7 linked regions of the Homo sapiens genome follow. The protein of the gene in region 2 purifies or fractionates together with the protein of the main gene of each other region. This does not show direct contact. Each region holds a gene or a part of one and is shown on either strand. Other genes may lie near its edges. The genes, in order: LANCL1, TEK, YTHDF3, TBCA, GLO1, NQO1 and KCNT2.

The links.
Region 1: the proteins of TEK (region 2) and LANCL1 purify together in Homo sapiens (affinity purification with mass spectrometry; one large-scale study listed by BioGRID and IntAct). This does not show direct contact.
Region 3: the proteins of TEK (region 2) and YTHDF3 purify together in Homo sapiens (affinity purification with mass spectrometry; one large-scale study listed by BioGRID and IntAct). This does not show direct contact.
Region 4: the proteins of TEK (region 2) and TBCA purify together in Homo sapiens (affinity purification with mass spectrometry; one large-scale study listed by BioGRID and IntAct). This does not show direct contact.
Region 5: the proteins of TEK (region 2) and GLO1 purify together in Homo sapiens (affinity purification with mass spectrometry; one large-scale study listed by BioGRID and IntAct). This does not show direct contact.
Region 6: the proteins of TEK (region 2) and NQO1 purify together in Homo sapiens (affinity purification with mass spectrometry; one large-scale study listed by BioGRID and IntAct). This does not show direct contact.
Region 7: the proteins of TEK (region 2) and KCNT2 purify together in Homo sapiens (affinity purification with mass spectrometry; one large-scale study listed by BioGRID and IntAct). This does not show direct contact.

What each region holds. Positions count from the first base shown.
Region 1 is NC_000002.12:210,470,142-210,474,160, reverse strand, and holds part of LANCL1 (glutathione S-transferase LANCL1), read left to right. Parts: intron 1-2,084; coding exon 2,085-2,202; intron 2,203-3,827; exon of another isoform or gene 3,828-4,019. UniProt on the Homo sapiens protein: Functions as a glutathione transferase. Catalyzes conjugation of the glutathione (GSH) to artificial substrates 1-chloro-2,4-dinitrobenzene (CDNB) and p-nitrophenyl acetate.
Region 2 is NC_000009.12:27,227,100-27,230,843, forward strand, and holds the end of TEK (angiopoietin-1 receptor isoform 1 precursor), read left to right. Parts: intron 1-1,106; coding exon 1,107-1,206; intron 1,207-2,058; coding exon 2,059-2,133; 3' UTR 2,134-3,075; downstream 3,076-3,744. UniProt on the Homo sapiens protein: Tyrosine-protein kinase that acts as a cell-surface receptor for ANGPT1, ANGPT2 and ANGPT4 and regulates angiogenesis, endothelial cell survival, proliferation, migration, adhesion and cell spreading, reorganization of the actin cytoskeleton, but also maintenance of vascular quiescence.
Region 3 is NC_000008.11:63,171,495-63,175,513, reverse strand, and holds part of YTHDF3 (YTH domain-containing family protein 3), read right to left. Parts: intron 2,862-4,019; exon of another isoform or gene 2,774-2,861; coding exon of another isoform or gene 2,716-2,773; intron 1,864-2,715; exon of another isoform or gene 1,833-1,863; intron 184-1,832; coding exon 98-183; intron 1-97. UniProt on the Homo sapiens protein: Specifically recognizes and binds N6-methyladenosine (m6A)-containing RNAs, and regulates their stability. M6A is a modification present at internal sites of mRNAs and some non-coding RNAs and plays a role in mRNA stability and processing.
Region 4 is NC_000005.10:77,773,226-77,777,972, reverse strand, and holds the start of TBCA (tubulin-specific chaperone A), read left to right. Parts: upstream 1-1,633; 5' UTR 1,634-1,715; coding exon 1,716-1,768; intron 1,769-4,747. UniProt on the Homo sapiens protein: Tubulin-folding protein; involved in the early step of the tubulin folding pathway.
Region 5 is NC_000006.12:38,682,497-38,686,515, reverse strand, and holds part of GLO1 (lactoylglutathione lyase), read left to right. Parts: intron 1-2,001; coding exon 2,002-2,142; intron 2,143-3,640; coding exon 3,641-3,708; intron 3,709-4,019. UniProt on the Homo sapiens protein: Catalyzes the conversion of hemimercaptal, formed from methylglyoxal and glutathione, to S-lactoylglutathione. Involved in the regulation of TNF-induced transcriptional activity of NF-kappa-B. Required for normal osteoclastogenesis.
Region 6 is NC_000016.10:69,719,789-69,723,807, reverse strand, and holds part of NQO1 (NAD(P)H dehydrogenase [quinone] 1), read left to right. Parts: intron 1-4,019. UniProt on the Homo sapiens protein: Flavin-containing quinone reductase that catalyzes two-electron reduction of quinones to hydroquinones using either NADH or NADPH as electron donors.
Region 7 is NC_000001.11:196,605,379-196,609,836, reverse strand, and holds the start of KCNT2 (potassium channel subfamily T member 2), read left to right. Parts: upstream 1-1,396; 5' UTR 1,397-1,527; coding exon 1,528-1,622; intron 1,623-4,458. UniProt on the Homo sapiens protein: Sodium-activated and chloride-activated potassium channel. Produces rapidly activating outward rectifier K(+) currents. Contributes to regulate neuronal excitability.

The sequences.
Region 1 (4,019 bases), on a different chromosome or scaffold from region 2:
TTCAGATTATAGCTAGAGTTTGAATGATTTGGTGGTGTACCACAAGCAATCAATATTCTCACAGAGGTCACCTTTATTAAATGCAGAATGTGCCAAACAGAAAGTAACTTCCCTTCATAAGGCTGAGAGATTCTCATTATTCTTGATCTCTTGAAGGCCAGGCAAGATGATAAATTATATATGATCTATATACAGTAGATGACGTGTTCTCAATATAGATGCACTCTTCTATCTAGCTGAGATTTATAGGCCTTTTGTATTAACATTGAAGTATATTTTATCCTACTAAATGTATTTTCAAGTCTAGTTGAAATCTTAACCTCTTTGCAGAAATTGTTAAATAATGGGAGTGTGTCTGTCAAACAACGTCGTTTCTTCTAAAGAGTGAAATAAGGGATCATAGTGGTGCTTTAGATTAAATAATCCAGATGTGGTTGAAAGTCTGATTTGCCTTATCAAGGATGCTCCTCCGAAGTGAATCTTAACGTATCCTTAAACTATTGTTGTTGTTGTTAATTCTGATACTGCCTTCTTGCTGTTTTCAGTGTTAAGATTTTATCTCATTTTTAAAAATGAGATTCTGATGTGAGTGGTTAGGTTTATTTCTACAATCCTTACATGGTAAAATAAAATGTTTATACCCTTGTAACTTTCCCCCACATTGTTCTGAAATTTTAATTACTATGTGAAATTCAAGTCTTAGAATCACAGCAAGTTCTTAAAATTATTGAGGGAGACAATAAAGTGAGTTTTTTGGGTTTTTGTTGTTGTTGTTGTTGTTGTTTGAGATGGAGTTTCGCTCTTGTTGCCCAGGCTGGAGTGCAGTGGCACGATCTCGGCTCACCACAACCTCCATCTCCCAGGTTCAAGGAATTCTCCTGCCTCAGGCTTCCGAATAGCTGGGATTACAGGCGTTCACCACCATGCCCGACTAATTTTGTATTTTTAGTAGAGATGGGGTTTCTCCATGTTGGTCAGACTGGTCTCGAACTCCTAACCTCAGGTTATCCGCCCACCTCGGCCTCCCAAAATGCTAGGATTACAGGCATTAGCCACTGTGCCCGGCCTTCAGTGACTTTTTAAGACACTGATTCAGTGTGTGCAGAAGTTTAAAATTATTTTTCATTTGCCTTTAAGAAGAATAACGTAATGATTGTGTGAGCCTCACTGTTTGCACAGCATCTGTGGACCTTCATATGGGTGGTACTAACCCCACAGCCCCAGCCTTAGTGTATTTTCAATCCATATCTAAACTATTACTTGCCTTAGACCCTTGATCTGCTAAAGAATTAGTAAAAATGTCAACATTTACATCCCTGAATGAGAAAGACTTGTGATACACTATCTCATTTAATCCCCAAAGTACCTTTTGAAATTGGCGTGGCAGTTATTATTATCCTGACTTTATGGAGGTATTTGAAACATAAAGAAGTTATGAGTTGAGCAAGATCAGCTAATAGCGGGTAAGGATGTAGACAGGCTCATTCATTGAGAAACATTTGTGAAGCCCGTATTCTCTGCCAGACACTGTGCTGGACGTGGGTTTATGATGCTAAGTTTGATATTCTTTCTATTCTGCTTAAGGCTCTTGATATACATGAATTTGTTTTGCTTTTCTTTGGCTACTTCATTTTTTTTAAATCCTTTTTTTTAAATAAGAGCAATTAGATGTTTCTTTAGGGAATTTACCTTGCTGCAGCTTGAATACTAAAAATCCAGTAGTTTGAAAGCACCAAACATCTGATTTGTGCTTAATTTAATAAAAAGACTTTATTATAATATTGGTTTAAATAATAGACGATTACTATTAGGTGGAAAATTACTGTGAGCCAGTTTATCATTGGCAGTCTGTTTTAGTATTTAACTAAAAATTTTATTTAAAACATGTATAAGTTACAACGGTATTTTATAAATTTTGTTAATGTGATGTTGTTGTTTAAGAATAGAAAATAAATTGTTTAGTCTTCCAGGTGGAAAAATATGTCCTAAGTGGAAAAGAAATACCTTTCTGTCTTTGATAGCTTATAGTCCAGCAAGCTGGGTGACCCACATTATTTTGATACTTGTTTTCCTTTAATATCTAGCTGACTCCTGAGTTCTCACAACGCTTGACCAATAAGATTCGGGAGCTTCTTCAGCAAATGGAGAGAGGCCTGAAATCAGCAGACCCTCGGGATGGCACCGGTTACACTGGCTGGGCAGGTATGAAGTGCTGACTGTGAGCTGGCATAAGCATTGTGCTTAAGAGCCAGAGCATTTTTCCGAGAGCTGTCTGTCTGAATGGTACACCCTTAAATGCTTCCTGCATCTGCATATGAGTAATTGCTTCTGGGAGAGTGCTGTGCCCTCAACCCAACCAACCATGGTATCTTCTGGGTTTTTAATAGTGCCCTGAATTTAGGGCATGGTAAGCATATTCATGTAATTCATGCCTGACATTTGGATGGCTGCTATACTTGTGAGGAGAAAAATTGATTTTCAATATTACATAGTTAATTTGCAGATGTAATTTCAGTGGGAAGAATTGGGAAGAGTTCCAAAATACAATGCCTGAAGCGGAGGTAATGAGGATTGATCTCAGGAATAAAATATGTCCAGAAGCATGTTTTAAAAAGTTAACCCGTAACAGGAATCCATACAGGAATCCATACAGGGTAAAGTATTACTTCCATGAACTAATCCTCCCATATGGTCATTGCTGTTTGGTTTGCAATTGCTGCATTGCCAATCTCAATCATTGAGAGGCTGGAGGAGGTTTAGGAAGAAACAGTGCATTGATGTCAAAAAAAGGTGAGAAAGAGAAAAATCAAAGAAGAGGCTGGGCGCAGTGGCTCACACCTGTAATCCCAGCACTTTGGGAGGCCGAGGCGGGTGGATCACGAGGTCAAGAGATCAAGACCATCCTGGCCAACACTGTGCAACCCCATCTTTACTAAAACTACAAAAATTAGCTGGGCATGGTGGCTCATACCTGTAGTCCCAGCTACTCAGGAGGCTGAGGCAGGAGAATCACTTGAACCTGGGAGGTGGAGATTGCAGTGAGATGAGATCACTCCACTGCACTCCAGCCTGGTGATGGAGCAAGACTCCATCTCAAAAAAAAAAAAAAAAAAAAAAATCAAAGAAGAAAAGTTGAAGAACTGCAATTAATTTACCAAATGTAGAGAAACAAAAGACAGCTGTGTAATCTGGAAGAAAGCATAGTCTAGAGACTCAGTGTTTCCCATTCGCTTTAAAGAGTGGGCAAGGAGGAATAAGCTTGCAATCCAGGGAATTTTAATTTGATTTTAAGGAGTGGAATTTGTCATAAAAATGGCCTCATAGCAGAGATTGTGATTCAGTAGATCTTGAGCAGAACCCAGGAATTTGCCTTTTATAGCCATCAGTGGTCCTGATGCAGATGGTGATCTACAGACTGCAGTTTGAAAGCTTTCTGAGAGAAATTTATTAATAATAGCAATCTCTTATTAGTCTTCCTCTTTAGTACAGGTTGAGCATCCCAAATCTGAAAATCTGAAATCCAAAATGCTCCAAAATTTGAAGCTTTTTAAGCTCTGATGTGACACTCAAAGGGAATGTTCATCGAGCATTTAGGATTACCGATGTTCAGATTTGGGATACTCAACTGGTAAATATAAGCCAAATATTTCAATATTTGAAATCCAAAACACTTGTCCCAAGGATTTCAGATAACGGGTACTCAACCAATAATGACACATGATTCTATTTTTTTTTAAACAAGGGTAGGGAAGACAGATTAAACCAGTAAAATTAAAATCTCAGGGACTTTTAAAGTCAATGTTTTGTAAAAATAAGACTGGACTAGATAATGTTGGACCATTTTATTGTTTTATCATTTTTATGGATTGTAGAAGCTTAACACAAAGTTAAAATGAGAATGAAATGACAGGATTTTGTTTCAAGAAGGAAGGTATAACAGCTGCCATTTATTATCTACTGTGTTCCAGGTGTGATGTGGTTGATAGATAATGTCATCAGTGAATGTTGAACATTACTAT
Region 2 (3,744 bases):
AAAGTGTAAGCTGTTCTGGGATCTGTGACACCCTAAGCCAATGGTTGATAGCCTTCCATGCACATAAGGTTCCCCAGAGTCATTTGTTCAGCATGTGGGCTCTTGGTCCCCACTGTCAGTCATTGATTCTGTAAGTTTAGGGCAGGTTCCAGAATTCTGCATTTTAATAACAGAGTAGTTCTGAGCACAACTGAGTAAGCACTGTCTTAGGTCAGTGTTTCCCAAACTATGTTTTCACGTGTTGTGCAAGATATAAATACATGATGCAAGGGGAAAGGAGTTCTGCGGTCAATTACTTTGGAAACTTTGTGTTAAACCTGTTGTCTTAGTCATTTCCGGCTGCTGTAACAACATACCATAAACATGGTGGCTTATAAACAACAGAGATGTATTTCTCACAGTTCTGAAGGCTGGGAAATCCAAGATCAAAGCGCTAGCAGATTTGGTGGCCATGAGCCATTTCCTAGCTCATAGATGGCCATCTTTCTGCTGTGTCCTCACGTGGCACTAGGGGCAAAAGAGCTCTTTGAGGCCTTTTGTGTAAGAGCACGAATCCCATTCATGAGGGTTCTACCCTCATGACCTGATCACCTCCCAAAGGACCTACCTTCAAACACCATCACATGGTTTCAACACATGATTTTTGGGTGGCATGAACATTCAGTCCATAGCACCTGGTTAAACAGGCATTTTTTTGTTTTTAATGACAGTGCTTCTAAAAGTCCTGCCTCTTAAAGGGACTTTATGTGGGTGGCATTTTACAAGTTTGAGCATGGGCCCTTTAAGAGACACTAACATTTTGAAATATGCAGCATTCCAAGGCAAATGCTGCTCTAGACACATACCCAGTTCTTTCTAGATGATTGCAATAGCTGAGACCAAGGTCCTGCAGAAACAGTACCGAGGGTAGGAACTAAATCTATGAGGAGTTGAAATGAGACTGGCTTAGGGAGGTGGGAGTCCTCATAGAAACTTCCTAGGGGCTGTACTTTGGTTAAGCTTCATAACCATGCATTGGGTGGCTTCATTCTCTCCTCTCTTTTCCTGCCGTGCCTAGGACTGAAGCACAGTTATAGAATTAACCCTTTAATTCTTTGCTTTCGAAGGTATGATCTAATGAGACAATGCTGGCGGGAGAAGCCTTATGAGAGGCCATCATTTGCCCAGATATTGGTGTCCTTAAACAGAATGTTAGAGGAGCGAAAGGTAAGTATTAAAGTCAGGCAGGAGATCTTTAATTGGAATACCTGATGTGCCCAGGGTGGTTCATAAAAAACATTGAAATAATTGAAGAAGTTCTTCTTGGCATGGCCCTAAGTATTATAGAAACAAAGGATGTCCCTCCACCCCCGCGACTTTGAAGAAGTTACAATTTTGGGGGGAAATAAGATTTCTATACAAGATACAGTCACGTACACACTAGAATAACATACAGAATTAGCCTATTAGAGTTGGAAGGAATTTTCGTCATATAGCCTGACCCTTTAATTTTATAGATGAAGAAACAGACTCAGAAGTGGGTGACTTGACCAAGGACACACAGCAAGTAGACAACAGAGCCTGACCTGCAGGTTACTATAATGAGGGTCAGGAACTCCATAAAAATTTCTAGAAGTAAGTTGGCTGTACCGATCTGGGAGTCAAAATAAAAGTAAACACAGTTTAAAGAAATAGTCATCAAAACCCAAGTGGTAATTCAACTAGAGATGCAGGTGAGATCACACAGATGTGAAAATGAGATTCAGACAGAGGAAGGAACCCAGAAGAAGGAACCCTAGGGAAGCTGAACACATTAGGAGGTACCAATAAGACACTGTGAGAAAGGCAAGCTCAGAAACTGAGGATACAGTATGAAATCTTACTTGCAGAACGCAAGGGGATGCATTTTAGGAAGAAAGTCATCAAATACAACAGAGGGACTGAGGACAGAAAAGTATCCCCCAAGTGCTTAGTATATGAGTTGCAACAAACTAAGAAAACCAAGGTATTGCTGTAACTGCCGCTGGCAGAGGTGGAATCAAAGCAGCCTATGTCTCTGAACCATTTTCATTCTTCCAGACCTACGTGAATACCACGCTTTATGAGAAGTTTACTTATGCAGGAATTGACTGTTCTGCTGAAGAAGCGGCCTAGGACAGAACATCTGTATACCCTCTGTTTCCCTTTCACTGGCATGGGAGACCCTTGACACCTGCTGAGAAAACATGCCTCTGCCAAAGGATGTGATATATAAGTGTACATATGTGCTGTACACCTGGGACCTTCACCACTGTAGATCCCATGCATGGATCTATGTAGTATGCTCTGACTCTAATAGGACTGTATATACTGTTTTAAGAATGGGCTGAAATCAGAATGCCTGTTTGTGGTTTCATATGCAATAATATATTTTTTTAAAAATGTGGACTTCATAGGAAGGCGTGAGTACAATTAGTATAATGCATAACTCATTGTTGTCCTAGATATTTTGATATTTACCTTTATGTTGAATGCTATTAAATGTTTTCCTGTGTCAAAGTAAAATATTGTTAATAAACCTAACAATGACCCTGATAGTACAGGTTAAGTGAGAGAACTATATGAATTCTAACAAGTCATAGGTTAATATTTAAGACACTGAAAAATCTAAGTGATATAAATCAGATTCTTCTCTCTCAATTTTATCCCTCACCTGTAGCAGCCAGTCCCGTTTCATTTAGTCATGTGACCACTCTGTCTTGTGTTTCCACAGCCTGCAAGTCAGTCCAGGATGCTAACATCTAAAAATAGACTTAAATCTCATTGCTTACAAGCCTAAGAATCTTTAGAGAAGTATACATAAGTTTAGGATAAAATAATGGGATTTTCTTTTCTTTTCTCTGGTAATATTGACTTGTATATTTTAAGAAATAACAGAAAGCCTGGGTGACATTTGGGAGACATGTGACATTTATATATTGAATTAATATCCCTACATGTATTGCACATTGTAAAAAGTTTTAGTTTTGATGAGTTGTGAGTTTACCTTGTATACTGTAGGCACACTTTGCACTGATATATCATGAGTGAATAAATGTCTTGCCTACTCACGTCTCATCCAGGAGTGTGTCTCATAGCTATTGCCACATGTCCTTATTATACTTTAAAGAAAAATCGTTTAAATTATCCATCCCTAGCACCTAGAGTAGTGCGAGTATACTCCACCAGTTACGGAATCTGAAGCTCATCAGATTGAAAAGGTCTCCTAGAAGTGTTCTACTGCTTATTTCTTTTTCTTGCAACAGGCAGTACACCTTTGGGAGTGTTCCAGTGTGAACCAAGGGCTTAGAATTGGAATTCCTTTTAATTGTGTTACAATGTTAAATAAAGTCCTCACACAATGTCATTGATAGGTTTGTGGAAACTGCAGTACTATGTAGTGAAACCAATTTTACCATAGAGTAACTCATAGAAACGAGATGCTATCCCCATCAAGCTACCATTGACTTTCTTCATAGAACTGGAAAAAACTACTTTAAATTTCATATGGAACCAAAAAAGAGCCCACATAGCCAAGACAATCCTAAGCAAAAAGAACAAAATTGGAGGTATCAGGCTACCTGACTTCAAACTATACTACAAGGCTACAGTAACCAAAACAGCATGGTACTGGTACCAAAACAGATATATAGACCAATGGAACAGAACAGAGGCCTCAGGAATGACACCACACATCTACAACCATCTGATCTTTGACAAACCTGACAAAAGCAATGGGGAAATGAT
Region 3 (4,019 bases), on a different chromosome or scaffold from region 2:
ATGTTATGGTTAATCTCATTAAATAATCTATTTGAAAAATCAACTAATACTAATAAAAGGTTAATTTCCTAAAATCTGAAACTGTCAGAAGACTTACCTGATTTGTCTGGCTACTTAAGTATGGCTCAAAATCATCATCATTTACAGCATCTTTTTGATGAATCGAACCGTTTTGTACTGAAACTAAAAAAATGTTTGTATTAGAAGTGTTGTAGTTATCTTTATGAAACTCGCAGCACAACCTAATGTTTTTAATATTTTTCAAGCCAAAAAAAGTAATCAGAAAAAATAATACTGAGTTATTTTTAAGAACCCTCTTAAGGATAAACTATTTTAGATACAAATATTCATGTGCCACAAAAACTTAAAAGTCTTTTGATACATAAGCCCAAGATTACATAAACACAAGCCATATATACACTTCCCCTTACCAAAAACTTTAAGTAAATATCCCAATCTCAACACTGTAGTGAGTAAATTGTTACATAAGAATGTTGGAAAGAGTTCCCTAATGCTATATTTGAATGTAAAATAACTATTTCAAGTAGCGTTGTAGGCAATAAAAAAGATTTCTGAATGTTCTCTACCTTTGTTTAAATCTCTAAATTATTTAGTATAATAAAGAATGAAATAACTATTTTCGATCTAATTTGTTATAGTAAATGTCTTAAATGTCTCCAGTAAAGTTTAGGCTAAAATTAACTTGAAACAATATCACAATGAATAGACTTATAATTATGAAATATCTAAATAAAGAGGGCTTTAATTCTAAGCCCCCCAGAATGAAGACTTTCACATGAAACTACAAACAAAATTAAGACACAAAAGATAGCCATAATTATCCTTGCAATACATGAGAAACAAGTCAGAGAATAATTTTGTTCAAAGGTCATCTCCATAAACACTCTAAAGTTGTTATTCTCTGGATGCTGTTTCAGAGTGCTTTTGAGCAGACTCAGAAGTAAGGTCCCGAATTTGAATCTCAAGTCCAGCACTGAGGAGATGATCTCCAGTTAGGGATTTAAACTCTCTAACCTTTGACTGTTCGCTGTTTCAGAAGGTTATGTATGAATAGTACCTACCTCATCTCATCTGATTATTAAATGACAGTGTTCAATAATCTTAAATGTAATCACATTAAATATTACAAGATCCAAATAGGACTAATATGACTTTAGAACCATTTAAACAGAAGTGTTACTAAGCTAATACTTGATGAGGTGGCACTATGTAAATATACTATTCTATACTAGTGAAGATAAAGTTGAAAGTTTCCGATGGATGTCTACAAATTAGAAACAAAAAGAACTCAGTATCTAAAGATTTACTGCTCAAAGGTACAACATCACCAAATTTTATGAAGTTAGGAGGGTGACGGGTTTAAATTGCGTATTCCTCTGTAATATAACATTTTTATTATCCTTAAATTTTCCCATGAGTGTAGAGCACCTAAAATGTAATATTATGAGTTAACAGTGGCTTGGGAGCAAAGATATACAAAATCCCTTAAATCTTTGCCATCCAATGAGTGGCAAAGATCAAAGATATGATGTTACTGTGTAAAGCATTCAAAGTAGACTTCTTACTACACCACACTGCCCCTCAGAGGCCACAAGAAGCAACCTGAAGGTCAACTTGATCCTGGCTCCACTAACATAATTTAACTATGTCTGATAAGGACTGCATCAGAACTAGGATTGAGCTAAATATGCTCCATGGAATTTAAATATGTAATAGCCACTAGAAACCAAAATAAAGAGGGTGCCTTAGGTTACTTCTAGTGCCATTATAAGGCTGGGTTATTCATTTCAGTCCAAGAGATTCTGACATACCTGTTCTCCTCTGACACTGGCTTTACTGCTCCTAAATCAAAGGTAAGTATGCATGGTCTATTACTTCTTGAAAAAAAATTCTTCACTATTACACTCATACATGTTAGTCAGTATTTGAAACAGCTAACAACTTAAAAATTATGACTAACTATCTCTCATATCCACTAGGTTCTCGAAAATCTAGTTCATACAAATACAAAAAGTGCCAGGCCAGGAGCTCAAGACCAGCCTGGGCAACACAGCAAGATCCCACCTTTACGAAAAATGTTTAGAAATTAGCCAGGAGTGGTGGCATGTGCCTATAGTCCTAGTTACTCAGGAGTCTAAGGAGGATCACTTGAGCCAAGGCATTCCAGGTTACACTGAGCTATGATTATGCCACTGCACTCCAGCCTGGGGTACAGAGTGAGACTCTGCCTCTATTTAAAAAAAAAAAAAGGAAAAAGTACTTACTTAAAATTTATCTGTATATATATATAAATATAATCCTGTTATTCTTATTTTTTTTGTTCTATTATTTCTCTTCTAAGAGGCTAGGCCTGAGAACAACCCATATACTATTATAAATACAGTCTACGGTCATTTTTAAATGATGCATAAATGTCTATAAAGTCTTAAAATATAGTACAAAAAGTCAATCTACTTTAAAAAATGTTTAATTAAAAGTACTTCACATATACCGAGAAGCAATTTGCATTAAACTAGCCCTTAAGTTTTGGAAGTGTATCTTAAAGAAAACTATCTTAAAGACTTTCGTTTTTGAATATTTACTTAATGACAAGCTAATGTCTTGGAGTCTGAAAACCATTAAATAGAAATGAAATCCAAGCTAGTTCCATAGTCTGTAAAATTTCTTCAGGGGTAAAAAGAACAGATGACTTACATGATTCTTCGCCTGTTTCCTCTGCTCTATGAAACAGAGTCAAATCAAGATAGAACATGGGCCTTAGGAGCCAGGTGATTCTTTGCTCTGGTCCTGACTACATCAAGTTAGGAAAGTCAACAGATCTGTGCATCATGTTTCCCCACCTACAAAAACAGCGACAATACCATATACCCGCTATCTCCTTACAAGGATGTTGTGAGGATTGATAAAATGAAGCCTAAAATAATGATAGTAAAGTGCTTTGAAATCATTTCTCGGGAGGACGAGGAGAGAATACAACAGAATATTGCCAAAATATAAGGCATTTTCCACTACTTTTCGAAAATTAAAACTTAGCCAAATTTAACCTAATTATTTTAAATTACAGTTGTATAAAACAATGCATACGTCTCTCCGTTGGAAGAGAGCGGAGAGGAGGAAAAAGATAAATCCTGTTCCATGAATTTGCTATTTATAAACTTAGAGGAGAAAGGAGGCAGTAAGGCCTAAGACTGTAAGTATGGCATCTGACACTTCCAACCATAGTACTCCCAAATAAAAGTACTGCACACCTTTATTCCAATAAGCAAAAATTCTACTTAATAAAAAAATAAAATACGAAGTGTTAAATTATGAACCAATAGGCAAATAATTATCCTTAAATTTCTACTATCCTTTGGTACTACTCTTGCCAAGGATAATAAAGAGTTCTGATATTTAACACAGGGACAGACTTAATTAAAAAAGAATTCAAACTTATAAAACAAGTAAACCTTGAATTATTACTTATTCTACAAAAAACATTTTTGCCATATCAAAGACAATTATTTAGAATTCCTTTTGGCTTCTGTAATGAATTAAGTAATTAAGGATATATAGAAAATCAAAGACACTAAAACTAGGTGTTAGGCTAAAGCTGTCAACTAAAGACAATTCAGAAAAGAAACAGGATCTCTGAAATTATAGTAAGTTGACTGAAAAGGATTACGTGTTCAAAACTTTAACTGACACCAACTTCTCAAGGACATACTATTTTTCATAAGCTTGCTAAGTTCAGAATTCAAGATTACTCATATTTAGAATACTGAGGTTGCAGTTCAAGAAAAATAACTTCATGAAAGTAAACAGAATTGTAAAACAATTTTACGAGCTGGGAACAAGCTAAGGCAGAAAAGCTTTTCTCAAATACACACATAGCTACTTATATCAGGTTCACTGGTAGTGTTGCCTTTGCCTTGTAATTCTCCCTGCAGTCATAAAAATACAAGTAACGTATATTTGTTATTTGTGCACTTGTAGCATCTGCCATTTTTAAGAAACTT
Region 4 (4,747 bases), on a different chromosome or scaffold from region 2:
CCAGCAGAATAAAAATATTTATTGAATTCTGTGCCCATTGTGCACAAAACACAGGTGGAGGAGGTTGGGGAAGGAAGATTTATGGAAGACAAGAATCTTGCCTCTAAACATGTTTATGAACCAGGATTTATAACTACGAAGCTGAACAAAACCCTTACGAAGGACCAAACAATAATTTGAAAAAGAAATATACTAAAAATAATGATGACTACTGGGTGACTCCAAAGCATCCAGGGAAGATTGAACAGGTGGGGTGAGTCATAGTAGACTTTGCTCAGTTTTGATCCTGGATTTAAAGTAACGGCCTTGGGCTGGCGGGATAGAAGGGGATTCCAGGACCAGTCATGAAAGTGAGAATGAGTAAGTCAGGCTAGGGAAGGAAAAAGACAGTCATATGGGTGTCTTTGAAGGATGGTACCAAGAAATTTTAAAAAGGGGGTGGGCTCGGTGGCTCATGACTGTAATCCCAGCACTTTTGGAGGGTGAGGTGGGCCTCACCTGAGGTCAGGAGTTCTAGCCAGCCTGGCCAACGTGGTGAAACCCCGTTTCTACTAAAAATACAAAAAAAAAAAAAAAAAAAAATTAGCCAGGCATAGTGGAACGCGCCTATAATTCCAGCTACTCTAGGGGCTGAGGCAGGAGAATCACTTGAACCCAGGAGGCGGAGGTTGCAGTGAGCCGAGATCAAGCCACTGCACGACAGAGTGAGAATCTGTCTCAAAAAAAAAAAAAAGAAAAAGAAAAAGAAAAGCAATTTTAAAAAGGGCGATTCTGCCCTGTATTCCTCAGGAGATTCTCTTAGGAAGGGACTGCTAGAGCTCACTGTAGATGTGCCTCATTTTATGCAACAAATATATTTTTGAACATATAAAATAGTCAAATGTTGTTCAGCATCTACCATGCGTCAGACAATGAGCTAGGTGTTTTAACCCTTATACCTAATCTGTAAAATGGACATTATTATTTCCATTTTGCAGACTGATCAGCTGCAAGGCTAAACAGCATACGTATCAGTGTTGTCTAGCTAATAGTCTAGCTATTAAAGGGTGGAACCTCGATTGTAAGCCGGTTTGTCTGATTAGGAAGCCCAAGGTTTTGTGTGCGACACACATTCTTGTAAGTTAAATATTTAGGATACACTATAAGTGATCATCTGAAGAAGTTCTGTTAGTCATTTCCTTTGAAAGGCACGTTATCTACAAACCTTCTTGCAGGGATTTGAGGTAAAGGGCAAGGATTTTCTTGACTGCGTGCATGATGGCAGTTTGTTTCACTACACATGCATCACTCTGCCTCATCTGACACCAGATAACGACATCGAAAATACCCTTAATACATTTTTTAGGTCACTCCGTCCATTAAGCAGATAATCCCGCAAAGCAACGTCCCAGAGAGACGTTAGTTTCCCCAAAGGCCCAGGCTGTGGAGACCGGGATAGTGTAACTTGCGCCTGAAGTAAAAAGAGGGGCAGTCCGAGAGAGAGGAGGAGGGCACGTTTCACTACGGGTAAAGGGGCGCACGAGGGGTAAAGGGACTGGCGGGAGCAGGGTACCGCCCTCTAGTAAACCCGCCCCGCGGGGCGTGGCGGGGACGACGGGCCGCGCAGCCTGCGCATGCGCGCCGGCGACCACGCCTAAATAGCCGCAGCCTCTGCGCGTCGCCCTCCACGGTTACCCCGGCTCTCCGCCCCTCCTTCTCGCGGCGCTCGAGGGACCATGGCCGATCCTCGCGTGAGACAGATCAAGATCAAGACCGGCGTGGTGAAGCGGTAAGGAGCCGGGAGCGGCGCCCTGCACCTCCTCTTCGTCACCTCATGGCGGCCCGCGAGGCTGAGCGGAGCGCAGGCCCGAGGAGGCCCGAGGCGGGCTCCGAACTCCAGGCCGCACCCGGGGCTCCGCAGTTGGCTGGGACTGGCAGGGACCCAGCGGGGCGCGCTGACGCCCGAGCCCGCCAGCCTCGCACGCCGCTTCCCGTCCCTCTCCGCTCACTGGCCGCTCTGATTTGCCGGAAGAGTCGGCGGTGGCCCGGTTTCTCGGCGCCCGCGGTGGGAAGGTGGTGGGCCGCGGCCTGCGAGGGCGGGCCGGGCCCTGATCCCGTGCCTCCTGTGTGCGCGCGCCGGCCTCTCCTTGCTGAACTTGGCCCGGGGAAGCGGGATCCCAGCTGTGCTCTCAAATGGGCTTGAAAGCAGGCTCTGAAGTTTAGGGGGATGCGGAGGATCTGGGCCTCGTCAAAAAAGACCGTAGTGGAGCCGTGTGACCTAACATGGCTGGCGTGACTGGCAGGCTTTGAGAACTGGGCCTGAACTTCTAGCACACTCAGCAAACTTATGTGGCCTCACTTTCTCCAGTCAGATTCCCCGAAGCTCGCCCCAGAGGCTGTGAGATGCTGTTTAAATAACTTGTGAACCAGAAGTATCTGAGACAGGTCTTAATTTGGAATGTTTATTTTGCCAAGGACGTGCCCATGACACAGCCTCAGGAGGTCCTGATGACATGTGCCCAAGGCGGTTGGGGCACAGCTTGGTGTAATACGTTTTAGGGAGACCTCAGATATTAGTCAATGGGTAAGGTGTACCTTGGTTCCCTCCAGAAAGGCAGGACAACTAGAAGGTTGGGGGGCATCCAGGTCATAGATAAGAGACAAATGGTTGCATTCTTTTGAGTCTTTGATCAGCTTTTCACTTAATACACAATTTACATGTGAGAGAGGGATAGAAGAATAGTCACTTATGCCTTAGTCGGCTAAATGAATCTGCGATTTTACATACACAGTAGGGCAGAGGAAGCAGTCAGTTACGCATTTGTCTCAGGTGGGTAGAGGGGTGACTTTGAGTTCTGTTCTTTGTCCCATACCTGTGAAGATAAGCTATCAATTTACATTGCCAGGGTGAAATACAACAGAACTGTTTTAGAGTGAAGGTCTTGAGGCCCACAAGGAATTTCCTTGGGGGCAAATTGTCAGGGAGGTATGTAGCTTTTTTTTTTTTTTTTTTAATCTTTGTAGCTATCTTATTCAGGAATAAAATGAGAGGCAGGTTTGCTCGATGCAATTCCCAGCTTGACTTTTCTTTTTGGCTTAGTGATTTTGGGGTCCTGAGATTTATTTTTCCTTTCACAAACTCATGGGTAGTGCAGTCCTGTAATTTGCTTAAATTCCTGTAAACCAAGAAAGTACCTGAGACAGGTCTCAATCAGTTTAGAAGTTTATTTTGCCAAGGTTAAGGATATGCCTGTGACAGCCTCAGGAAGTCCTGATGACATGTGCCCGAGGTGGTCAGGCTACAGCTTGGTTTTATACATTTTAGGGAGACAGAAGACATCAATCAATACATGTACGATGTACATTGGTTTGATCTGGAAAGGCAGGACAACCCAAAGCGGGCTGGGGACAGTTCCAAGTTATAGGAGGTTTTCCAATTGGCAGTTCGTTGAAAGAGTTTATCTTAAGACCTGGAATCAATACAAGGGAGTGTGTCTGGGTTAAAATAAAGGGGTTGTGGAGATCAAGGTTCTTATTAGGCAGATGAAGCCTCCAGGTAGCAGGCTTCAGAGAGAATAGATTGTAAATGTTTCTTATCAGACTTAAAAAGGTCCCAGACTCCTAGTTAATTTTCTAGTGGATCAGGAAAAAGACCTGGACAGGGAAGAGGGTTCTCTACAGAATATAGATTTTCCCCTTAAGAGACATCTTTGCAGGGCCAATTCAAAATATGTAAAGAAATATATTTTAGAGTAAAATGCTTTTATTTCTTTCAGATCCCGCTATCTGTCCTGTGATGCCATACTAGAGTAAAGCTGGAATTTGGTGTCTTATTGTTACAAAAAGCCTTAAGATCTGTTTTAATGTTAATGCTGCTCAATTGTTCCTGAGTTCCAAAGGGAGGAATGTGTAATGAGACATGTCTGACCCCCTCTTCCCATCATGGCCTGAATTACTTTAGAATGCCCTTAGTTGAGAGGAGGGGTCCATTCAGACGGTTTTGGAGCTTAGAATTTTGTTTTTAGTTTGCATTCCTGAGTGCTGGTAGACCCTTCAGTGTTCATTAGAACTTTATTGTTCAGACCCAAGAAGAGCAAACTTTTTGATGAAGTATTACAAGAGAAAAGATAAACAGCCTTCTGAAGAAGCAAGTTATTTTGTTGTAGCAATGTCTACTAAAGAAACCAACTGGCTTCTTCCTGTTCGCCCACCTTTCCTTTGTTTATTGATATTTCCACCAGAGGAAGGACCAGGCAAAAGGGAGAATAAATTCACTTTTTAAGATAATGCTTCTGAGTTTTAGCACAGCATCCCACTTCCCGGGAAGCTTTATTGCCAAGGCAATAAGGAGACCATGTGAGTAGGAGTTAAATGCACAGCCATTTGTGAAGTGAGACTGCTTGGGTTCAGATCTTGATTCTGCCCTTTATTCTATGTTGTGGAATATATTACATTGTGCTGTGCCTCTTTTACCTTATTTGTAAAATAGAGCAAGCACCCAACTCAAGCAGTTGTTGCAAGAACTGCCTGCTATGCTGTTTAATACAGTATGTGGCAAATAGCAAGTGGGTAGTAAATGTTAATAATACTGTTTGGATTCTCATTTTACATATGAGAAACTGAGGTTTAATGAAGTTAAAAAAAGAAAAAAAAAACTTGTCTAAAGTCACACTACTAGTTAGTGGCAATGCAAGGAAAAGGACCAAGGTTTCAAATCTACAACTTTCTCCTTTAAGCTACAGTGCTCCCGTAAAGAGTATTTTTAAAA
Region 5 (4,019 bases), on a different chromosome or scaffold from region 2:
AACTGACCATCTGTTCTATTTTTCTAGGCTGTGTTTTCTTTTGCTCAACAGGTCATATCCACTGATCTTGCAATCCTAAAGCATACTTATTTTTCTAAAGCATGTTTATTTTTCTTTTTTTCTCCAGCTTTACTGAGGTATATTGAGAAATAATTTTGTCATATTGTTGATTTGTTTCCCTAAGTTATGTGAGCATTTTGCTTTTGAGCATATAGATACATGAATAATAAAATAATCTTTAAATTTAGTGCCTAGATAACTTCCATTCACATTGAGAGAAAAATTTAAGTAATATATGTCTATATTTAGAAAATTTGACCAGTTCAGAAAAATACAAAATGAAAAGTAATAGCTTCCCTCCCCAAGTTCTTCTCCCCAGAGATAACTGCTGTCCAGTTTCTTGTGATTTTTTTCTAGAAAAAGGTATTATGAATATATTTATGACATATTTAAAGGACAAAATGAAAACAGATTTATTGAACACTTTTGCCAGGCACTTCAAATGTTATTTTGTTCAGTCTTCACACCAGTCTTAGGAGGTAGCTTTTATCCCCATTTCACAGACGGAGAAACCAAAGCTTAATGAGATGAAGTTACTAGCTCCAAATCCCACAGTTGGCATATGGCAGGGCTGGAACCTGTATCCATTGTCTGATGGGCTCTAATGTAGACTTCCTGTGCAGAGCCCCCAAATAGGGTACAAGTTGACAGTAAGCTGGAAGATTTGAACAGCTGAGAAAAGCAAGTTGCAACAGTTTCATTTCCTTCAGTCCCAACTGATTGGTCCATGAGGGTTGTGTAGTCTGCTTTAGTAGGTGCAGAGATTGTTTTTCATGATTGGAGTATTTGAGGTGTTTGATACTTTATTATAAACATGTTAGAGTAAATCTTATTTGTGATAAGTCAATGCAAGGATCTAAGTGGGCCAAGGTCTATTATATAGCAGTGATAATGAAATAAAAGATTGGAAGCAGAACTCTAGAAACTTTCCATTTGCTATATGGCAATAACAGCCATTTGCTCTTATTGATTATGAACAAAGTCATCTTTGAATAATCTAAAGAAAATCATATATGCATTCTCATGCCACCTTACTCCTTGCCAAATAATCCTATACCATTTAAAGTCATTTAAGGTTCAGGACTTCAGTTATCTTTCTTAAAACCTCAGGATTCATAATTCATTCACTCTCTCTCCCATCAGTCTCTTCTACTGTCTCTTTCCCCTCAGAGAAGCGTAAGTCTTCTTTGTTCCAGAATATTTCTTGCCCTCTGCTCCTTCGCCTACCTCCCCATTGTCACTGCCATGCTTGCTACTGTTTTACCTGCTCACCTGCCATTCTCTCTCCCCAGTACAGTGTAATCCAGCTGATGCTTCCCCACTCTGCTGACATTGCTCTCATGGGACCTTTCCATATCTCATGACCTTTTCTTAGTCTTAATACTGTTTGACCTTTCTACAGTATCTGATACTGTTAGCCACCTTACTGTTGACATTCACGTCTTCTGTGATACTAGTCTGTCCTTCCTCCTTCTTTCTTACCACCTATCCTTAATTTCCTTTCCTAGATGTTTTGGCATAGTAAGAACTCAATAAATGTGTTTATTTAACTGAATGACATATTTATATATGTGTTTGTATGTGTGTATATATATGAAATAGCAACAAGGTTCTTTATATTTTTCAGTACAAATAAACACAGTTCTCTTTTGGAGATAGCCGTTTCTATTTATTAACAAGTACCATAATTTCAGCTAAATGTTACTATATTTACAGAATTGATGAATTACAGAAGTTTTCATTTTTGTATTTCAAATATTTACAGATGCATTTTTCATGATATTTTTTCACTGATTTTTCCTCCTGCTTATTCCATTAAAATAGGCTTACTACATATAGCTCTTCTTTTTAGTAAAACTTGAATATTAAGTTATGTTGATTATAGTATGAATTAGCCTTTCCTGTTGTTAATGATTCAGGCTTGTTGTTTTTTCATTGCAGGCTAATCCAAAAATGTGATTTTCCCATTATGAAGTTTTCACTCTACTTCTTGGCTTATGAGGATAAAAATGACATCCCTAAAGAAAAAGATGAAAAAATAGCCTGGGCGCTCTCCAGAAAAGCTACACTTGAGCTGACACAGTGAGTATGAGTTTCTATATTTATATATATTATAGATTTTTTAAGGTAGTTTTTAAAAATCTTTTTTGTTTTGTTTACTGACCAGTATAATTCAAACCAGATCTGCCTATGACTTCACATTTTTAATAATATATTGAAGTGTTTTTCATGCATCTTTTGATCTTTGTATTGTTCTTGGGCAAATGAGATGTGTTTTTTTTAGAGACAGGCTCTCTGAAGCCTCTAACTTCTAGGTAGTCTTCCTGCCTCAGCCTCCTGAGCACCTTGGACTACACATGTGTGCCACCACACCCAGCTAGTTTTTGTTTGTTTGTTTTTGGTAGAGGCATAGAGGCAAGGTCTCACTATGTTGCCCAGGCTGGTCTCAAACTCCTGGCCTCAAGTGATCCGCCCGCCTCGGCCTCCCAGACTGCTGGGATTATAAGCATGAGCCACCACGCCTGGCCCATTTGTCTTTTATTTTTATTTATTTATTTATTTATTTTTTGAGACAGAGTCTTGCTCTGTTGCCCAGGCTGGAGTGCAGTGGCGCGATCTCGGCTCACTGCAAGCTCTGCCTCCCGGATTCACTCCATTCTCCTGCCTCAGCCTCCCAAGTAGCTGGGACTACAGGCGCCCGCCACTACGCCCAGCTAATTTTTTGTATTTTTTGTAGAGACGGGGTTTCACCATGTTAGCCAGGATGGTCTCGATCTCCTGACCTCGTGATCTGTCTGCCTCGGCCGCCCAAAGTGCTGGGATTACAGGCGTGACCCACCACGCCCGGCCTCCATTTGTCTTTTAGATAAGAGAATATAAGACCCTGAAATTGTAAGATATTTGCCTGTTTGTCTCTAACTAATTTTTAGGTACTATAATTAGTCTTTCAGCATCCAAAATTTTGTTCTTTTATTATTTTGCTACATTTTGGATCCAGAAATGTGATATCATGTGTTCCTTTAAAAATTCTTCAAACCATTTTGTAATAATTAACATTCAAATTTGGTATTTTTATAACTTGAGCACTTAAAAATGTAGGCAATTTCTTTACATTGTTTATCTGCATACTTTAAAAGAGATTGATTTCAGAGTGTGTGATTTCGTGTGTCCCTTGATTCAAAATAAAGCTTTGGAATCAGGCAGGCTTAGATATGAGTCTGTGACTCTAAACAAGTAAGTGGCAGTTTCATCAATAGAATGGAGATGTTCACACCTAGCCCATGGAGCTGTTTTAAGGGTTTAAATGAAATATAAAGTACTTAGCACAATAAATGAGCATTATTATTATTCTTATTATTGTTCTTGTCCAGTACCTGTATTTACTGTCTCTTTAGTCTCGTTAAAATCATACTTTGGCCATTTGTCCTTTCTATAGTTGAAAACTTAATATTTTTGTAGCAGGGGTTAGGCCAATTATGTAAAGTAGCATATAAACGTGGTAAGATTTCAAAGATGTTACTTGCTTTTCAGAATATCTATTCCCTAGGACATTGTAGCTATGTTTTCCTTCCTTTTGTAGCAATTGGGGCACTGAAGATGATGAGACCCAGAGTTACCACAATGGCAATTCAGACCCTCGAGGATTCGGTAAGTTTGCCTGTTTTTATGTGATATATGTAGATTTGTGTGATTTTGTATTATGTATATAATTATGATTTTAATAAACCTAAAACATTAATGTCCTAATTAAGTATGATCAATTTATTAGAGATATGATTATTTTTATTTTCCACAAATAATCTTATTTAGGAGTTGTTTAATTTCAGAGTCTCGATCTAAAATTACACTTACCATCTCACCATGATTTACTTTTAAGTCTCAGAATTAATTTCCAGTAGACTTTTTTTTTTAAAAAAGCTGTAGTTAATACTAATCCCAGTTTCTGCTAGCACATACAC
Region 6 (4,019 bases), on a different chromosome or scaffold from region 2:
TTGTTTGAGACAGAGGCTTGCTCTGTTGCGCAGGCTGGAGTGCAATGGTGCGATCTCGGCTCATTGCAACCTCCGCCTCCTGGATTCAAGCAATTCTCCTGCCTCAGCCTCCCGATTAGCTGGGATTACAGGCACCTGCCACTACACCTGGTTAATTTTTTTTTGTATTTTTAGTAGAGACGGGGTTTCACCATGTTAACCAGGCTGGTCTCTAACTCCTGACATGAGGTGATCTGCCCGCCTCAGCCTCCCAAAGTGCTGAGATTACAGGTGTGAGCCACCGCGACCCACCCACAACCTTCTTTTGATCATTTTTCTTTTGAGTTGTTTTGGGGATCTACCTATTCCAGGTACTGCACTTTGATGGTTATATTTGTTGCAAATATATTATTCCTGCTTGTGTGTTGCCTTACATGAAAAATTGTAAAGTCACAGGCCTGCTTATAGCTATTAGAGTCTGAGCTCCTTGAAAGAGCAAGAGATGGATATCCTGATTTGCTCATTTTCTGAGAAGTGCCTTGACTGTCTTACTACTTAGAAAATGCTTGTTAACATTGATGAGAAGTCAATAAAATAAAAACTGTTGGCTGGGCGCTGTGGCTCACGCCTGTAATCCCAGCAGTTTGGGAGGCCGAGACAGGCGGATCACGAGGTCAGGAAATCGAGACCATCCTGGCTAACACGGTGAAACCCCGTCTCTACTAAAAATACAATTAGCCGGGCGTGGCGGCGAGCGCCTGTAATCCCAGCTACTCTGGAGGCTGAGGCAGGAGAATGGCGTGAACCTGGGAGGCGGAGCTTGCAGTGAGCCGAGATCGCGCCACTGCACTCCAGCCTGGGCGACAGAGCGAAACTCTGTCTCAAAAAAACAAACAAACAAAAACTGTCAGAGCGGCGATCAGTAAACATTGATAAGACTAATGGCAAGGTAAGTTACAAAGAAAATGCCTGTTAGAGCTGAATATGCTCACTTCCCTCCCAATCATGTTAAATCCATGGGTTAAAGAGGTAGGAATTTGTTGAGGCAGCCTCAGAGCTTCCTTTTCCTTTTTCCAAGCTATCCCAAGCAAGTCAATCACTTCCAGCGCATTGAAATCATCACCAGACACCTATTCCACTGAGTCTTAGTTTTAAGAGTCCAAAACCCTAGGACCAAGTTTGGAAATCCCCTGGTTTGGCATATTGGGCCCTGAAAGTTACACTTCGCTGAATTTAGCCCAAGAGGCACTTGCCTTGCTAGATGTGGTCAATAATAAAAGCAGGAAGAGAGCTTAAGGTTTAAATGTGCCTTTCTAGTTATTTTAGTTATTTCTAGTTATTCAGATGGTGCAAAAAAGTTGCAGATGCCGGCTGGGCGCGGTGGCTCACGCCTGTAATCCCAGCACTTTGGGAGGCCAAGGCAGGTGGGTCATGAGGTTAGGACATCGAGACCATCCTGGCTAACATGGTGTCTCTACTAAAACAAAAAATACAAAAAATTAGCCGGGCGTGGTGGCACGCGCCTGTAATCCCAGCTATTCGGAGGCTGAGGAAGGAGAATCGCTTGAACCCGGGAGGCAGAAGTTGCTGTAAGCCGAGATGGCGCCACTGCACTCCAGCCTGGGTGACAGAGCAAGACTCCATCTCCCCCGCCCCCACCCCCACCCTGCCAAAAAAGTTGCAGATGCCTTCTCTCCCAGCTCCACCCACTGTTCATGGTAGGGTATGAAGTAGCAGCGCACATTATCAGGAGCAACTGTGGGGGTAAGCGTCCTTTCTCTGGCAATTCGCTCTATGCCCTTGTACGCTGTTGTTTGTATTTCTCACTGTTTGTAAGTCTCACTGTCGCCCAGGCTGGAGTACAGTGGTGTGATCACGGCTCACTGCAACCTCCACCTCCCTGGCTCAAATGATCTTCCCACCTCAGCTTCCTAAGTAGCTGGGACTACAGGCACACACCACTACGCTCAGCTAATTTTTTTTTTTTTTTTTTTTTTGGTAGAAACGGGGTTTCTCCATGTTAGCCAGGCTGGTCTCAAACTCCTGGGCTCAAGCAAGCTGCCTGCCTCGGCTTCCCAAAGTGCTGGGATTACAGGTGTGAGCCACCACGCCCAGCCACTCTCTGTGTTTTTAAATTATTCCAGCTTCACCACTTAATGACTACACACTTGGGTAACTTGCTTCTCTCCTGTGCCTCAGTTTTCTCATCTGTAACATGGGGCTACTCATGGTATTGACCTCATAGGGTGTGTCTCAGTCTATTTTGTGCTGCCATACATAATACTTGGGACTAGGTAGTTAATAAAAAAGAGAAATTGATTTCTCACAGTTCTGGAAGCTGGGAAGTCGAAGATCAAGGTGCTGGCAGGTTTGGCTGTCTGGTGAGAGCTGCATTTGGAGGAATGCTGCGTCCTTACATAGACGGTGGGAGGTAGAAGGTGGAAGGGCAGGTGAGCCCCGTGCTGGGCGAAGCCTCTTTTATGAGGGCCTTAATCCCACTCATGAGGAAGGAGACCCCCTCGCCTAATCACCTATCACAGGCCCCATCTGTTAATCCTCTCACATTGGCAGCACCTGAATTTTGGAGGGGGACACGTTTAAAACATAGCAGGTTGTCCTGACAAAGGAAGAAAGTGCAGGCCGGGCGTGGTTGCTCACACCTATAATCCCAACATTGTAGGAGGCTGAGGCAGGCAAAATTGCCCCAGCCTGGGCAACACGGCTCCAAATTTGACCAGCCTGGGCAACATGGCAAATCCCTGTCTCTACAAAAAAAAAAAAAAAATTAGGTGTGGTGGTGCACACCTGTAGTATCAGCTACTCAGGAGGCTGAGGTGGGAGGATAGCTTGAGCCTGAGAGGTCAAGGCTGCAGTGACCTGAGATCATGCCACTGCATTCCAGCCTGGGCAACAGATCGAGACCCTGTCTCAGAAAGAGAAAAAGAAAAAAAAGGAATGCAAAGCACTTAGGGCAGTGCCTAGCACTAAGGATCCACTAAATACTGTTCTTGCAAATTGAAGCATGCTGCCTCTGACAACCTTGTTAATATAAAAGAGGCCCATTTCCCTTCTACCTGTACCTCTTTGCCATTTCTTATAAAGGAAGCTGAGCTGTTAATAGTTCAATGTGATTGGCCTGGCACGGTGGCTCACACCTGTAATCCTAGCTACTGGGGATGCTGAGGCAGGAGAATCGCTTGAACCTGAGAGGCGGAGGTTGCAGTGAGCCAAGTTCATGCCACTGCACTCCAGCCTGGGCAACAGAGTGAGACTGTCAAAAAAAAAAAAAAGTTTAATGTGATCACTGCACATTTTTCCCCCTCATACCAAGGTGCTGCAAGTCTACATACAAATATATGTCATTTCTTTTTTTCTTTTTTTTTTGTATTTTCTTTTTTCTTCCTTCCCTTCCCTCTCTCCCTTCCTCTCACTTCTTTCATTTTAAATAAAAATGGGTTCATATTCACTTGCTTTTTTATCAGTTAATAATATAGCATGGATATCTTTTTGAGTCACTACATATAGTTAATTCATTTTAATTTTTTTAATTTTTAAAATTTGTTTATTTGAGACAGGGTCTCCCTCTGTCACCCAGGCTGGAGTGCAGTGCGGCGATCACGGATCACTGCAGCCTCAACCTCCTGGGTTCAAGTGATCCTTCCATCTCTCAGCCTCCTGAGTAGTTGGGACTACAGGCATACACCACCATGCCCAGCTAATTTTTGTACGTTTTGTAGAGAAGGGATTTCGCTTTTGTCATGTTGCCCAGGCTGGTCTTGAACTCCTGGGCTCAAGCAATGTTCCCGCCTTGGCCTCCCAAAGTGCTGGAATTAGAAGCGTGAGCAACCGTACCTGGTCAACAGTCTCTAAAAATTTTTTTTTATGACAAGGTGTCACTATGCTGCCCATGCTGGTCTCCATCTCCTGGCCTCAAGGGATCTTGCCGCCTCAGCCTTCCAAGTAGCTGGATTACAGGCTCCAGCCACTGTGCCCAGCCAGTTTAACTCATTCTTTTTTATATATTTTTTACTTTTATCTTA
Region 7 (4,458 bases), on a different chromosome or scaffold from region 2:
TATTCTCTCTGCTTGCTTCACCTTTGCTCTTTTCCCTAAAGTAGGCTGCGAACGAATATAGAAGGCTTGGTTCATTTTCAATGTCTTCCTTGACCCCCACCTCGAAGAAGTATGTGTACCTCACAGGTATTTCCAAATCCCTCTGTATGTTCTTTGATTATTGTCTCTCACATCGTATCCATTTATCAAGGAACAAGCTTGTTCCTCCACACAGAGCGGTTCTTAAGTAAGGGCAGGAGAAGCCATATGGTTATCCTCCGGCCCAGGCTGTCAGGTGGTTGGTATTCGGTCTGTATATACTCTGATGCAATCAGTTTTTGAAGGAAAGAACGGTAAGCGCAAATAGAACCATAGCTTGTGTAGCAGGGTTCATGTAAGCAGTGGTTCTTACTGAAAAACAGACCCTGTTCTCTCGGGCTCACTTCTTCCTCCGTGTGAACCACTAATAGGAGGGGACCGAAGGCTGAGGCCAGGCCACCTGGAAGCCCACAACGCTGCTAGTAGCAGCGACAGCAGTAACAGCAACTCACCACTGTAAAATCCTCAGTGCGTTTCCATGTGCTTTCCCTGTCATCTAAATGCTTCTCTTCAGCGGCCTAAGGTGGCCCTTCTTTTTCCCCGAGTTCAGGGAAACACCTCCCTTCTTTCAGAATGTGAGAAAAAAATGGGATTTTCCTGGGGCTGAGAGTGGGGATTCCCTTTCCAGAAACGTGCAATTTTTTCATCCCGCCCACCTGGACTGAAGGCAATCAAAGCGAGGGAGCTCGTGGCATAGTGGAACACTCCAAGCACCCTGGCCCCCCTCCTCCCAGAGAAGGGTCTGGAGCCCCGCAATCCGCTAATTAGCTCGCCCCCATTGGTTGTCCCCAAGGCACCCCCGTGCCGTCACTGTGCTATGCTAATGAGGGGGAGTCTCATTGGCTGGGCCTCCAGCTCCATCTCCACAGGGAGATTGCGGGGAGAGCCGGGTTGGCCGCGTCTGGGGCCGAAACCCACCGCCCCCGATTCCCGCCAGCTCAGGGCTGTGCCGGATGCAAGCCCGCCCGAGGGAACAGTAGCCGGGAGGCTGCCCTCTGGGAGGATCTGGCAACTGCCTTTAAGGAAAGTGCTTCACCATCAAGCGGCGCTCACTCCCACCCCTCTCCCCTCTTTCTAGGCACCGCGCGTCTTTTTCGGCGAAGTAACTTTTTATACCCGCCTCCCCCTAGTCCTGGGGACCAGAGGCGGTGCCGAGCCTGGGGGCGGTTCCTTGGCAGCGTTGATTCTTGTCAGAGCCAGACTTTTGCTCCTGGGTTGGGTTTGCATCATCCCCATTACACCCTCGGGAAAGAGGAGCCAGCCCCCTTTCAAGCCTTAGCTTCCGGCTCCAAGCGGACCCCCTCCCCCTCCCTGTCCCCTTCCCCTTCTCCCATCCCTCTCTCGGCCACAGCGTCTTGTTAGTCCTCTCCCTGTACTCCGCAATATTTTCTTTCTTTCTCCCTCCTCTCCTCCATTTGTTGTTTGATGTTTCCCACTCTTTGAGGAAGGATGGTTGATTTGGAGAGCGAAGTGCCCCCTCTGCCTCCCAGGTACAGGTTTCGAGATTTGCTGCTAGGGGACCAAGGATGGCAAAACGACGACAGGTGAGTGGTGTGGTGGAGGATTGTTCTGTAAATATTGCTGAAAAAGAGACGGAAATGGGAGGGCCGAAGTGGGGAAAGGAGGGAGAAAAGGAAAACGGAGCCAGAGAGGGAGACTAGGCTGGGGGAGGGAGTAAAAGAGACTCTGATTTGTCTCTCCATTTTGACTCTATATAACTGTTGCTATAGATAAGGAACTCTTTTTCTTTACACTTTTCTTATTCTTGCAAGGTATTTATTGCATTCATTTGGTGCTTATTCTTTTGTCTATCTGTGCTTTTCTAGGATGTGTATAAGGCTGGTATCAGAGGTACAATACACCCAAATGGTATGCAATATCATTTCCAGAAAATTTGCATTTTTTCCTTAGGTGTGGTTAATCAAACTCAAAATTGCATGCAAGTTGTTTGAAAAAGCACATTAGAAACTTAAAATCTCCTGAGTCTATTTACCTCCTCCTTGTCTGTGTTGTCTTGAGTAGGTATCTACTTGGCACTGGAAATTTTATGCTGTTTAAACATTTTGGAGTTTTAAGTAGACAATTGGTTTAAATATGTAACAGGTAGTTAGTGAAAATGACAACCTTTTTAATACAATATACTCACTTTGAACAGGTGACTCTGACCATTATGAATAATGATGTTTGTATAACATGATACAACCTTTTCATAACTAGTATATTTTTTTAACTGAAACAGAATATATGTCTCAAAATTAAAATTAAGTTTCAAAACTAGAATATTTATTGTTAGCAAAATATTGTTCATGTGTTTTATTTATAGCATTACTGCTTTGCACAAACTTCTGAAATTCCTCTGTCTATTTCTGTCTCAAGCACATTTTGTATTTCAGCGAATTTAGTATTTTCTGGAATAGTCATCCCATATATCACATGCCACATTTCTTTGTTTTAAAATAATACATGTATACTAACTAGGTTCTCAACTCAATTGAAATGTTTCATTGAAGTTTAGTTTAGTATTGATGTGCTATTTTAGTTATATAAAAGATCCATTATTGGTCCAATCCAAAATCCCCTCCTCATTCACCACTGACCAATACACTCTATTTCTTTTCTTCACCTTTTCAGCTCCCAATACCAACTCCTGTCTCTACACACTGAGGATTTTATCTTGAGCATCAATTATGGGCATCTTGTTTGGTCTCATATTAGTAATTTGAAAGGAGATGGATGTTTTGTAGAGGATATTTTGGTTCAATCTCTTTTTTAGGCAAAACCACACATATTGGCTAAAAATTTAAAGAAGTAATACCAATTTCTCAGTATTCTTGTAAAGTGTTTGGGTAAACTGAAGATAAAGAAAATAATTTTTAAGTGAATTTGTAATACAAATTGACATTTAGATAAACTGCATTAGCCTGGTTAAATGGCTTAGTAAGTGTAGCATGGTGTTCCTAGTGACTGAATGTATATTTAGTTCAGGACCTCAGGATCATTATATAGAATAGAAATCCTCTTTGTAGAAAGTGTGAGATAGATTAAACACATAAAGCACATACTTTGGTTATAGTGATGGTATTGTTGTTTGTTTGTTTTAAATATCATATCCAATATGTTAATTTTCATGTGGTTGCCCTCATTTTTCTAAGGATGCTGCAGAAATATTTTAGTAATTAAGAATTTTGGTTAGTTGAACACTGCCTAAATGGATCAGTGCCATATTAAAAAAGTTTTGCAGAATGGTTAAAATTTTATGTTCTATTAAAAGGTTATGCTAGCCCAACTTTAACTTAAAAAGCAGGCCACATTTACTACTAAAATAAGTTATTAAATATTTAAAACAATCATTCAACCATTTTTAAGGATTTGGCTACTTTTGTGGCTTCATGGAAAACTATTCTTTGGTTTTGGTTCCATTTGTTGTTAATCTTTGAAGGCAAGATACTTGGAATCAGAGAAACCCAGATTCAGTCCTTGGCTGTTTCCTTCACTAGCTGAGTGGCCTTGGGAAAGTCATTCAGCCATTATGAGATTCAGCAATATTATTTTTTATAATGGGAATTATACTGTCTACCTTATAAAACTGTGACAAGAGGAAGGATGGAGAGGCGCAGAACTAACATTTAGTTGGAAATAAGTACTCCCAAGTTCTTTTAACTGTGCGGTATGTTCTTTCTTAGTTAATCCTCAGACAAACTCTGAATAGCAGGCAATTATGTTAGGCACAAGGAAACTGAAATTTTGGTAAATTAAATACGTGTCTTGGATATTATATCTTATCAGTGTAAAGATAACTCTTCAGTTCAGTTTATTATTATTCAAATCCCTCAAGAAATTCTTAAGTTCTTTTCACTTAATTTATTTGAACTTATAAGAATAATTTACAGCACCTAGCATAGTTTAGGTGCTCATTAAATATTAGTTCCCTTCTTCACTTCTGATTTGCCCTTTGCAATCCTTTTTTTCTCCCTTTTCAGACTCCTAAGCTAATATGTGGTAGGTAAAGTCATCTTCCTTGTCTATAATATGGTGACAAATTCCTCTTTGCAATTACGCCTGGATAGCAATCTCATTCTACTCAGTTATCTTCTTGGACTCAATTCTTATAGAGTTGAGGAGGAAGCCCTCTTTCATGTAGGAGTAGGTAGATCATTTCCAACAACAGATACATTTAGTGCTCTGCCCATATTCTCAAAGCAACTTTCTTTGAACACCTCCTGCATGAGGTTTTCTCCCCACCACCAACCTCAGGTGCATCCAAGTCCTGCTTGGAGAACAAGCTGGAGTGTCACTGAGTAAATAGGCTGTTTCTGAATCAATACTTTTGCTTCCTTGCTCCTTAGCTTGGAGAATTCTGAAGCATGTTCTACACTGTGT